2 separate regions of the Homo sapiens genome follow, and region 2 is linked to region 1. A link means that fine-mapping ties the variant in region 1 to the expression of a gene that starts in the linked region. Tissue or cell type: minor salivary gland. Region 1 holds a variant in brackets; the other region holds the start of a gene. All regions are shown on one strand. Distances are from middle to middle.

What was found. PIP is the estimated chance that this variant, and not a neighbour inherited with it, causes the effect.
Region 2: ATP1B1 starts here. The variant in region 1 is fine-mapped to the expression of ATP1B1 in minor salivary gland (GTEx, PIP above 0.99).

What each region holds. Positions count from the first base shown.
Region 1 is chr1:168,862,233-168,864,996 of GRCh38, reverse strand. All of the region lies in intron 1 of LOC105371606 (a long non-coding RNA gene), which reads right to left. Among named protein-coding and RNA genes, the nearest start is that of LINC00626, 77 kb to the right of the region's middle. The variant G/A (reference allele first, on the strand shown) is at 1,134.
Region 2 is chr1:169,105,608-169,108,107 of GRCh38, reverse strand. ATP1B1 (ATPase Na+/K+ transporting subunit beta 1) reads right to left here and starts at 1,418. Exons shown (of 6, transcript NM_001677.4): 1 at 1,182-1,418. The coding sequence starts at 1,278. RefSeq lists enhancers at 709-1,281, 1,282-1,854, 1,643-1,937, 2,428-2,500 and a silencer at 1,451-2,370.

The DNA of each region.
Region 1 (2,764 bases):
CCCAAGATGTAAGTCATATCCACAAAGACCAGCCAGCACAGTGGGCAGGGAGTTCTAAATGTCTTGTGGACCTGTGGACCTATTTCCTGCTTATCTTTGCTTTGGCTGGTGCCACTTTTTCAGTTCAATTTGCAGTTTGAAGTCATGCAAATTGTATTTTAAGTGAATTAACCTAAGTAAAAGTTTGATGACTTCTGCCTCTAAACATGCTTTGCCTAAATCACTTATTTTTGCCCTTCAAAAGATAAACTGAATTGCTTATGAAATATGGCGTATGTCACATTCAATCAAAACACTGATCCATTCAATCTAACCCTCTCTTCCTGCTGCCATCTCAAGGTATGGATTGCATAAGAATTTTGTGGCATAAATTTGAAAACAAAACCAAAAACAGTTCTCCATTTTCTTTTATGGATTCTCCATTATGGATTAGCCTTAATGTTTCTTGAATTTCTGTTAGGGAACATCAAGGTCTGTGTCTAGTTCTTGGGATCAAGCTTGTGTTTTCACTAAGGTCTTGTAGCTGCTGACCTATTTCCCAGCCTCCTCCTTAGCTGACCTAAGAGGCCTGCTCTATACAATGGCTGCTCTCAGCTTTGTGGGATCTCTTCTTTTAATCTTTGGTATGCTTGAACACTAAATAATGTATTCAGATGCTGCCTGCCCAGGAAAGATGTCCACACTTTTTTCTCTTAATGCATAACTTCCTGATACCAAAGAAACCTATTTATCGAAGGAGCCAGAAATTCAGAAGCTACACTGAACTATTCTTACTTGGGAACCAAGTGTAAAATCTGACGAGTTGACTCCTACTTTTATTTTAGCTGGGCTGGGGCGTCTGTATAAACAGCCTTTCTTATGACAATTTGGCAGTGCGACTTTTGGTCAGGAAGAGAATCAACAAATGCTTTTATTTCTCAGTCTCCATCCTTATCCCCCCTCCCCTTTACTGACCTTTGTTTGAACCAAGACTAGAGTTTTATTGGGGCTTTGTTTTGTGTCTTGGGCAAGAGTTTTGGATCAGCCGAGGTCAGATCTCATTTTATCTAAATCAGTTTGCCCTCCCCCAATCTCAAGGGAAAAACTTCAACAAAAATACATTTACACGTTAGTCTTAGTTTTCATTGAGTTCC[G/A]TCTTGGCAAAGGAGGCCAGATTCTTATCCCTAGAGGCACTTAGCCTCTTAAACAATGTTTTATTAATTTTTTTCAAACAACCTCTACTCAATCATAAATAAATTGGCTCTCCTGCTTCTGATTCTGACTCCAGAGGCTTGTGGACTTTTGACGTTTTCTGTAATTTTTAATCTAGACATTGTCTCCCACATATAGCAAGAAGCAACATTATAGAATAGAGAATAGAGGATTGGCGGTCAAGAAACCTGGGTTCTAGTTCTGACTGTGCCACTATGCATAACTTTGGGCAAATTTTTAAATCCTAGGCTTCTCATCTCAGTAATAGAGGACTGGATAATATTTACAGTTTCTGTGGACTATAAGATTTTATGATTGGATTGAGAGGAACTGAGTGGAAATCCAGGACCCCAAAAGTAAATCAAAAGGCATTGGACTTACGTCAGAATTCACAATTTTATTAATTTTTTAAAAAGATTTACTATTATTATTATTATTTAGAGATGAGATCTCACTATGTTGCTCAGGTTGGAGTGCAGTGGCTATTCACAGGTGTGATCATAGCTCACTGCACTATTCAACTCTCAGCCTCAAGCGATCCTCCCATCTCAGCCTCCCAAGTCAGGTGCACCACTGAGCCCAGCTAGAGCACACAATTATCTGCATGGTTAATTAAGCCAGAGGTACTCCTTGAGCTCCCAGATTAGGGTAATGTGAGGAGCAATAGAGAATTTTTGGCATGTCAGACCTGGAAGGGCCAATAGAGGCTATCATATCTAACCCATTTCTTTAATAGATGAGGAAACTGAGGCATGAAGAGGAGCAGAGGCTTTCCTAAATTTGGTTAAAAAAGCCTCCATGGATTTTCTCTTCATCGCTTTCACTTCATACTACTTTGCCTCTTTATACTACTATTCAGAGGTATTCTTTATAATAAATGTTGTTAGTATTGTGTTTTGAATAATTCTAGTTTTGAAAAACTCTGTCAAAGGCAAACCCATTAGGCCATTCTCTCTTCCGCATTAGGACTGTAACCATAAGCCAAGGGGCAGTGTGTTGGTTGACACAGTGTACATACATCCCCACATCCCAGTAGTTTAAACACATAAGAGAGGAATTTAAAGTACACCTGTGTGAGGCCATGTGAATTTCCTCTTTCATCCCTTTTTTTGGTTCCATATATACCGATTATCCAGTATATTGAAGCCTGAAAAATACTTTGTTGTCACAGTTTTCCAAAGACTACCTTTATCCAAGGTATCTGGGTAGCTGAAGTCCAAATTTATTTCAGAAAATTGAATAATCAGGATTGCTAGCTGTGGGAAGTTTATATACTACATTAAAGAAGATAGATTTGGTTTTGTACACATCTCCTCTCACCCCCAAACTTTATGTGTTTCCAATATTCCTCAGACAATAAGGACTACACATTTCATTTTAGCAGGAGTCATATTTAAGTTCAGAGTTTGCCAGCAGATATTTTCTACCCTTCATGATCTTACCTTGTTTATTACACATTTGAGAAGATGAAAAGGATCAAATACATGAGTTTTTTCAGACAATTAGTATCTATATTTTAAAAAGCACAATCCTAGTTTTAAATTGATAATATTTGGCAAGATACTTGATTTTA
Region 2 (2,500 bases), 240 kb before region 1:
CTGCATTTTTTTTTCTTTACAAAAATTCATATATTCCAGCTTCTTCCATTTCAAAATGTCAGCTAAGCACTATTTCCCTGACTCATTCTCCTGCCGATTCCCACAGATCCTCCCAAGCAGGAACACCAATCGGCCTCTGTTCAGGACTCCCTGAATGACTGCAGTGGTGGTGCCAGTGGTGTTGGTGGTGATGGTCATGATGATGATGATGATGATGATGATGTTGGAGGAGGAGGGGGCAGTGATGCAGCAGGGGGAGTTCCCTCCCTCCTTCCCTCACGCAGTCACGACTCATAGATTCGCCTACAACTCTGCCCTTCAAAATGACCTTTTTTTTAAAAAAAAAAAAGTCACCTTTCCGGAGAGGCTGAAAACAAGAAATCTAATTTTCGATGGAAAAAAGTCTATCCAACCAAGCAACAGGCTGCACAAAATATTTTAAGATCAGCTGCTCTGCGTTTATATTCCCTTCACCATAATCAACCCAACCTACTGACTGATCCACAACTGTCTGTGTAGACCTTGAAAACAACCAGACTTTGCCAGGTTTCGGGCCAAAGCTAAGAATCGGAGTCCTGAAATGGAGCTTATTGAACCATTTCTGGGTGGTGATGACTCCAGGGGAGGTCATGGAGGGAAATCCTTAGCCATCGCTGTGAAATACTACAGTGTGGATGGATTCCTCTCCACCCTTCTCTTTCCTCTCTTTTGAGATACGTATTTAGACTAGAAGAAAGATGCTGTAACACACAACCTCGTCTGCATTAGATCCCATCACCTCACGAGGTTCTCTCAAGACCCCAGATCTCATTTTTTTTTTAAGGACTCAGGACACGGGAGAGACAAATGTAGTCTCGCAGAGCCTGACTATTCCCAGGAGTAAAAGGCTCAACCGATGCACGGTAGGAAAGACTGCAAATTACCAAGCCAAGATCGCTACGATATGCATAACCTTCCGCCTGTCGTGTTCCAGCCCCGACCCTGCGCCCCACTCTGGGGACACCGCATTCCGCACAGGACTGCAAGCCCAGGCCGGCGCGACCCAGCAGCGTCCACCACCCTCGCCCCCGCCACCCCGGCCAGCGCGGTGGGTGCGGAACCGGCCGCGGACCCTGCGCAGGGGATGCGCCGCCCGGGAAAGATCAGACGCGGCGGCCGGGAGCTGCGGACCCCGTACTTACACCAACTGCCACCGGTCCTGCCCAGAAACTCCTTCTTCTCTGAGTTCCAGATGAATTTCTTCCAGCTGCCCTCCTCCTTGGCTTTCCCGCGGGCCATGGCGATGGCGGGTCAGCAGCTGCCGCGGTCCGGAGGGTGGGTGGCTGCGGCGCGCGCCCTGGCGTCCTCTGCGCCGCTCGGCTTCTCCGGCCTGGCTCTCTGCAGGCAGGACGCGCCGCTGCCGCTGCGGCTCTCGGAGTGCGAGACGCGCGGCGGAGGAGCCAAGGCAGGAGCAGGAGGAGGGGGAGGCGGCGGCGGCGGCGGCGGCGGGGCGGGGGCGGAGGGAGGGACGGCGCAGGCTGCGCGGCTCCGAGCCCCGCACCTATTGGTGGGCGCGCAGCCGCTCGCGGGCTTTCTTTGGTCCGCCGAGCGCTCCTCTAGCCCTTGGGGGGTCGGGGGCTCCGCGAACCCGTAGCTGCCGCTCCCGCTGCCACTGGGGACGTGTGCTGGGCCCCCGCCTCCCCTGACCTCTGCAGAGACAGGCCCGGGGTAGGAGAGTCAGAGAGGGAAGGACGGACAAGCGGACTGCGGGGCGCCACCGGCACTCCCGCCAGGAGCCGAGGAATTGGCTGCGCCCGCCCTACCTTTACTATATACCGCGCCCCGGCGGCCGTGCGCCCCGCCCTCTAGCGGCCCGGTGGCCAATCGCCGGCGCCAGGGGCAGGGACTCGGCCCGAGAGGGCGGGTTCGGGGCCGGCACAAAGGAGCCGCCGGGGCTAGAGGGGCCGCTTGGATCGCTGGGCGCGGGGCGTTGGGCGCGGGGCGAGGAGGAGGCGGGGGCGGCGGTGAGGGACGCGCAGGCAGCGCCGCGCAGCCCCCTCCCAGCTCCCGGCTGGGCGTGAACCGCCCCTTCCGTGGCTGGGGGATCCGCACCTGGGTCGCCCGGAGCCTCGAGGACCCCAGCCCGGCAGTCCTGGCCCAGCCTCCACGCCTCTGCCTGCCCGCCCGCGCTTTCGGCCTCCCTGGGCTGTGGGTCCACCCCTCCTGGGCGCTGGCGGGGTGGGGGAAGGTCACTCCGGGACGCCGGACTGGCGAGGACTCTGCCCAGCTCCGCCCCGCCTCCCGCTCCTGCACCTGCCGCCCCCTCGCACTCCCCGCCACTGCGGTTGCAGTTCCGGCCCTTCCCTCTTCTTTGCAGGCCAGCCCAGCCGGCAGCCCCGGTTCCTGACTGCCCGGCTGTGCCCCTTGTGGGCGGCCTGAACCACCTCGAGCAGGACAATTGCCAAACCCACCCAGGGCGGTAGCCCGCAGTGAGTTGTCCCGTAGAAACCAATTGAGACTC